2 linked regions of the Homo sapiens genome follow. The gene in region 1 interacts genetically with each later gene. Each region holds a gene or a part of one and is shown in the gene's direction. Other genes may lie near its edges.

Evidence for each region. Genes that interact genetically often act in the same process or in processes that back each other up.
Region 2: of XIAP (region 1) and CASP8, changing one suppresses a phenotype caused by changing the other (phenotypic suppression), as found in Homo sapiens cells (one study listed by BioGRID).

Annotation. Positions count from the first base shown.
Region 1 is NC_000023.11:123,863,050-123,866,801, forward strand, and holds part of XIAP (E3 ubiquitin-protein ligase XIAP), read left to right. Parts: intron 1-3,752.
Region 2 is NC_000002.12:201,270,384-201,274,135, forward strand, and holds part of CASP8 (caspase-8 isoform 2 precursor), read left to right. Parts: intron 1-1,132; coding exon 1,133-1,238; intron 1,239-2,254; coding exon 2,255-2,393; intron 2,394-2,514; coding exon 2,515-2,559; intron 2,560-2,719; coding exon of another isoform or gene 2,720-2,817; intron 2,818-3,752. UniProt on the Homo sapiens protein: Thiol protease that plays a key role in programmed cell death by acting as a molecular switch for apoptosis, necroptosis and pyroptosis, and is required to prevent tissue damage during embryonic development and adulthood.

The DNA of each region.
Region 1 (3,752 bases):
ACTGTACTCCAGCCTGGGCGAAAGAGTGAGACCCTGTCTCAAACAAAACAAAGAAACAAAAATCTGAATTGTAGACTCTTTGTAGATAAGAACATATTTTTTAAAAAAGTTAAGACTAGGGCCAAGTGCGGTGGCTTTCACCTGTAATCCCAGCACTTTGGGAGGCTGAGGTGGGCGGATCACCTGAGGTCAGGAGTTCAAGACCAGCCTGGCTAACATGGTGAAACCCCATCTCTACTAAAAATACAAAAATTAGCTGGGTGTGGCGGTACACCCCTGTAGTCCCAGCTACTTGGGAGGCTGAGGCAGGAGAACCACTTGAGCCCATGAGGCGGAGGTTGCCGTGAGCTGAGAACGCAACATTCAACTCCAGCCTGGGCCACAGAGTGAGACTCCACCTCAAAAACAAATAAAAAGTTAAGACTAAAACAGTTTATAGTGATTAGGAGTTCAGCTGTCTAGTTTTGTTTTTGTTTTGAGATGGAGTTTCACTCTTGTTGCCCAGGCTGGAGTGCAATGGTGCGATCTCGGCTCACCTCAACCTCTGCCTCCCAGGTTCAAGCAGTTTCCTGCCTCAGCCTCCCGAGTAGCTGGGATTACAGGCATGCGCCACCACGCCCGGCTAATTTTGTATTTTCAGTGGAGACGGGGTTTCTCCATGTTGGTCAGGCTGGTCTCAAACTCCCGACCTCAGGTGAAAAAGTGCTGGGACCTCAGGTGAAAAAGTGAGTCACTGCACCTGGCCCAGCTGTCTCGTTTTTAGAAATAGATTAAGACTCAAAAAAAATATTGCCCACCGTAATATATCTGATTATTAGCAAAGCTTGGACTAGAGTCTAGGTTCTAGTCTAGTGGCCCTTGTACTATACCTGTAATTTTATTGCTTTCTAGTGCATTGGATGATTCCAACTAGGCTGACAAAGTAATAATATCTAAAGGTTAGCCAGGACCATTTCAATAGTTAAGAATTATTATTTTTTTCTTTGGTTTTTATTTTATTTTGTCTTCCTTTTTTTTTTCATTTTCAGGAAGTGAGCAGTTTCTCAAAATTATTATAATTAATGGACCAGCTAATTTGTATAGTGCTTAAAATATTTTAGTAACATAAATTTTACTAAATAAATTTACTAATTTAGTAAATAAATGTTCTCCTTTTATTTCATTGTAAACATTAATTTCTTTAGTAAATCCTGTATTTATATTGTAAATGTTTAGCGATAAAATAATGATATTTCACTGTTTTTGTTTGGTCTAATATTTAAGTCTGGTAGGTAGTATTAGCAGAGAGCAAAACCTACAGTTTATGAAATAAACATTCATTGAGCACTTAATGTGTTCCAGGCATTCATTGTAGTATGTGGTAGGATTCCAAGGATAAATATGGCAAAACAAATGCCTTTCTTCTGTTTTTTTTTTTTTTTTTTTTTTTTTTGAGACGACGGAGTCTGGCTCTGTTGCCCAGGCTGGAGTGCAGTAGCGCGATCTTGGCTCACTGCAGGCACTGCCTCCCGGCTTCACGCCATTCTCCTGCCTCAGCCTCTCAAGTAGCTGGGACTACAGGCACCCGCCACCACACCCGGCTTAGAGTGTGTGTGTGTGTGTGTGTGTGTGTGTGTGTGTGTGTGTGTGTGTTTTAGTAAAGACAGGGTGTCACCGTGTGTGTGTGTGTTTTAGTAAAGACAGGGTTTCACCATGTTAGCCAGGATGGTCGCATTCTCGTGTGTGTGTGTGTGTGTGTGTGTGTGTGTGTGTGTGTGTGTGTGTGTGTTTTAGTAAAGACAGGGTTTCACCGTGTGTGTGTGTGTGTGTGTTTTAGTAAAGACAGGGTTTCACCATGTTAGCCAGGATGGTCGCATTCTCCTGACCTCGTGATCTGCCTGCGTTGGCCTCCTAAAGTGCTGGGATTACAGGCGCGAGCCATCACACCAGGCCGCCTTTCTTCTTTTTTTTTTTTTTTTGCTTTTTTATGTTCGTCTGTTTTTATTTTGCTTTTGTGTGTTTGTTTGTTTTTCCATTGTTCTTTTGAGGCTGGGAGATTATCATGAGCTGTCAATTCTCAAGCTTTATCTCTGTGAGATAATCTGGTAATAGTTTTATAAAATGTAACCTGTTAGCACTATTAAAGGACATTGTGTGAGTAGATATGAAGAGACAAACAGTAGTGATAAGATAAAAAATACTTTAGAATTTAACAAATACTGTTTCTGTATCTTAGAGGTCATGTGCTACAGTGTTTGGAAAGAGCCCTACGTTGGGTACCACAGTACAGGTTATTGACTTTGTTTCCAATTAGCTGTGGGATTGTGCATGTCAATGACCCCATCTTTCTTTACATGTTCACATTTTTGATATGTTATTTTAGGTGTTGAATTCAAAACATAAAAAGGGTATTTTAAGGCCGGGCGTGGTGGCTCACGCCTGTAATCCCAGCACTTTGGGAGACTGAGGCGGGCGGATCACGAGGTCAGGAGATCTAGACCATCCTGGCACCCCTCTCTGCTAAAAAAAAAAAAAAATACAAAAAATTAGCTGGGCGTGGTGGCAGGCGCCTGTAGTCCCAGCTACTTGGGAGGCTGAGGCAGGAGAATGGTGTGAACCCGGGAGGCGGACCTTGCAGTGAGCCGAGATTGCGCCACTGCACTCCAGCCTGAGCTACAGAGCGAGACTCCGACTCAAAAAAAATAAAAGGGTATTTTGAATATTTTATTTTATTTATTTGTTTTTGAGACATTGTCTTGCTGTGTCACCCAGGCTGGAGTTCAGTGCATGATCCCAGCTCACTGCAACCTCCACCTCCTGGGTTCAAGTAATTCTGGTGACTCAGCCTCCCAAGTAGCTGGGATTACAGGCGTGTGCTACCACACCTGGCTAATTTTTTTTTTTTTGGTATCTCTTTTTTTCCCCTCGGAGACAGAGTCTTGCTCTGTCGCCCAGAGCTGGAGTGCAATGGCTGCGATCTCTGTTCACTGCAGACTCCGCCTCCTGGGTTCAGGCAATTCTCCTGCCTCAGCCTCCCGAGTAGCTGGGATTACAGGCGCACGCCACCACAACTGGCTAATTTTTGTATTTTTAGTAGAGACGGGGTTTCACCATGTTAACCAGGTTGGCCTCGAACTCCTGACCTCGTGATCCACCCACCTCAGCCTCCCAAAGTGCTGGGATTACAGGTGTGAGCCACCACACCCAGCCTTTTTTGTATTTTAAGTAGAGACAGGATTTCACCATGTTGCCCAGGCTGGTCTTGAACTCCTGACCTCATGTGATCTGCCCGCCTTGGCCTCCCAAAGTGCCAGGATTACAGGCATGAGCCACTGTGCCGGCCTTTGAGTATTTTAAGTTATAAAAGAAATATGTGTTTCTATATATATTATATAATATATATTATACATGATATATAATATATATGATATAAATTATATTATATACAATATATTATATATGATTAATATATAATATATGATATATCATATATAATATCAAAATATATAATATGTATATAATAATGTATGATATATATAATATAGTATATAATATATTACATGTATAATATATTATATATAATATATAATACAATATATGTAAAATATATATAATATATAACACAATATAATATGTAAAATATATTACATATATAATATATATATTTTTCAGACAGAGTCTAGCTCTGTCACCCAGGCTGGAGTGCAGTGGTGAGATCTTGGCTCACTGAACCTCCGCCTCCCAGGTTCAAGCGATTCTTCTGCCTCAGCCTC
Region 2 (3,752 bases), on another chromosome or scaffold:
ATGTGTAACATGTCTAAAGTTAACACTGCTCAAAGATAGTGGAACCAAGGCTCCAACACCAATAGCCTGGGTCCGCTGAGCTCAATCATTGCACCTCACAACCCTCTGGGTTTATGAAAATAAAAAGGGTACGGACCTGGCCACTAGGGGACTTGAACAGTTTCTAAACAGACAATTATTTTCTGTTTTTATTTTTAGTGTGGTGGCATGATCACAGCTCACTGCAGCCTCAACCTTCTGGGCTCAAGTGATCCTCTCACCTCAGCTTCTGGAGTAGCTGGGACCACAGGTGCATGCCACCACACCCGGCTAATTTTTAAATGTTTTTGGTAGAGATGGGGTCTTGCTATGTTGCCCAGGCTGGTCTCAAACCCCTGGGCTCAAGTGATCCTCCTTCTGCCTTGGCCTCCTAATGCGCTGGAATTAGAGGCATGAACCACTGCACCAGGCCAACAGACAATTATGTGTGTTATCGTTTTGGGGTTACTAAGTCATAGTGGAGTGAATGCAGCTTTGAGGATGCTCAGGCAATGCTTGAGCTGATTGTTCATGGATGGGCCTCTGCAGATAGACAAGGGGATGGGGTGTAGCGGCACCACAGAAAGGGGTGAGGGCAGGGCAGCTGGGTGTGTTTGGCTTCAGGTCCTTTCGTGTTTGCGGTCTGGTCTGTGATAGGGATGTATTCGGAGACTTTGTATTCCAGAACCGAATGCTTGGCCGTCTTACTGAAGATAATGACTGGGAGAATACTGACCAGTTTTGATTAGGGAAGTCATGAGCCAATGTGCATTTTGAAAAGCATAATTTCCAAAAGGCAAAGCATTTTGCTATTGCAACAAAATCTCCATTTTACAGAAAAAAAAAAAGGAAAACAAGATTTACTCAACTGAAATAAACTGAAAGAAAAGTTGATAGAACTTTAAATTGTTAAGGGTGGGAAAGTCGGGGAGGAGCCAGTAGACTTCTGTGTCACCACACCAGCCTCTTTCCAAGGGCTCAACTCATAAACCATGCCATTAACTGGCTTTATGTTGAAGGGAGGCCTTTGGAATCAAGCCCACTGTGACTCCATATATCAAATGGGAAATTATTTGGGAAAAGATTTCTAAAGTGTCTCCATTTCCCACCACAGGGTCATGCTCTATCAGATTTCAGAAGAAGTGAGCAGATCAGAATTGAGGTCTTTTAAGTTTCTTTTGCAAGAGGAAATCTCCAAATGCAAACTGGATGATGACATGGTAAGACCTGGTATCTTACTGAGATTTAGTCCTGAGACTTGGTTAGCCAGGGGGCATTTCTGAGACCAAAGAGAGGGGTATTTTGGTAAAAGCAACCTGGATTCTCACTTTTTAACTAGAAGAAGAAAGTTGTCAGCACGAGTGTTACAGATGTGATTCCTTTAGACCGAAGTGCTGCTCATGTTAATTATTGGGAGCAAGGCAGAGTCAGAGGCCGGGAGAAGGAGGCTGTGCAGATGCAGCCCAGACCCGGCAGAGCTGGGAAAGACTGCGGTGGGTCTGAGATATTTCCTCCACTTCTGCAGTCCCCGAAACAACCTGGGACCTGAAACTCTGTGTGTATATTGTGTCTGTGTGTTGTGTGTGTATTTCCGTGTCTGTGTGTGCCTTTCTCTGTGTATAGTGTGTGTCTGTATTTGTGTGTGATATGTGTATCTCTGTGTGTCTCTGTATAAGTGGTGTGTGTGTCTGTGTATCTCTGTGTGTGTGTTCTCTGTGTGGTATGTGTGTCTGTGTGTTGTGTAGTGTGTATTGTATTTATGCCCCTGTGTGTGTATCACTGAGTATACTCTGTGTGTGTTGTATCTGTGTGTGTATGTGCATGTGGTGTCTGTGTGTGTGTGTCTGTGTGTCTGTATGTACTCAGGTCTGGAGAGGCAATGCTGGGGGTGAGGCTGTTCCCCAGGGTGTCACCATGATGACCGGGCTGCTGTCTCAGGTTGTTTCACAGTCCCCAAGTAATGCATTCGCAGGAGATTTGAGCACAGGGCCTGGGGACTGGGTGACATCTGACATGGCTTCTCCTTTATCCTCTCACTTCTGTCTTTCTGGGCCAGAAAACATGGAATCGCTTCCCTAGTAGCCTGCTGGCTGTGAGAGACCAGCAGAAACTGTCAGAAACTTGGGAAGCAAGGGCAGGTCCTTGGTTGGAGAAATTGGAAATTAAAAAAAAAAATCTAATCTAAAAACCAGTAGGGCTCAATCCAGATTCCCAACTTTATTTCTCCTCCTCTTAGAACCTGCTGGATATTTTCATAGAGATGGAGAAGAGGGTCATCCTGGGAGAAGGAAAGTTGGACATCCTGAAAAGAGTCTGTGCCCAAATCAACAAGAGCCTGCTGAAGATAATCAACGACTATGAAGAATTCAGCAAAGGTAGAAACAACCTGACAGCCGGGAATCGGCAAAACCTACTCTAAAATTGAAACTGACAAATCGCTCCATATCACAGTTGTTTCTAATCAAATATTGTTTGGGGTTTCCCCTTTTAATTCAGAGAGAAGCAGCAGCCTTGAAGGAAGTCCTGATGAATTTTCAAATGGTAATGCTTGGAGATACATTTTCAAGATTTAGTTAATTTACTATCTGGTACCTGCATGTGTCCTCCCCACAGCCTTCTACCACATGCACATCTTAACGTGCCTGCTCTACTTTTTCTTTTTTTTTTTTTTTTTGTGAGACAGTTTTACTTTGTTTCCCAGGCTGGAGAGCAGTGGCACCATCTCGGCTCACTGCAATCTCCGCCTCCCAGGTTCAAGCAATTCTCCTGCCTCAGCCTCCTGAGAAGCTGGGATTACAGGTGCGTGCACCACCACGCCTAGCTAATTTTGTATTTTTATTAGAGATGGGGTTTTACTATATTGGCCTGGCTAGTCTCAAACTCCTGACCTCAGGTGGTCTGCCTGCCTTGGCCTCCCAAAGTGCTGGGATTACAGGCATGAGCCACTGCGCCCGGCCGCACCTGCTCTCCTAAGACCTGTAGCCCAAGCTGGCAAGTTTGAAATAGGTGCAGAGTTAGTCAGTAGTAAGTAATTTAACATCATTTTTTCTATGTGGCTTTTTTTTTCTCCTTGACGTGCTGCTCATGTTATGCACTGAGTAGCTGGATTTAAATTATGTTTCATAATTTTCTTGGTTAAGTCACTTTCTCTTTCAACACCTTCTACACTAAGTCACTCCTTTCAACTTCCTTTCACTTTTTCTACCTGATAAGCGAGGCTGAACCAAGAGAGAGAGCTCTCAACGATCTCCTTCAAAATTTTGATTAATCAAATAGTCTTTTTTTTTTTTTGAGACAGTGTCTCACTTTGTCCCCCAGGCTAGAATGCAGTGATGCAATCTTGGCTCACAACAGCCTCGACCTCCTGGACTCAGATGATCCTCTTGCCTCAACCCCCTGAGTAGCTGGGACCACAGGCACAAGCCACCATGCCCGGCTAATTTTTGTATGTCTTGTAGAGATGGGGTTTCGCTATGTTGCCCAGGCTGATCTTGAACTCCTGAGCTCAAGCCATCCACCTACCTGGGCCTCCCAAAGTGCTGGGACTATAGGCAATTAATAAAGTATTCTTTCTGATTAGAAAAATTATATACACTAATTGAAGATTATTTTAAATTCAGAGAAATTTTTACAAGTCCAAGAACACCATCACTCCATTCATATTATGAATATTTTTATTGTATTTTTACGTTGGCTCTTTGTGGTGTGTGTGTGTAAAATACATTTTGGATCAC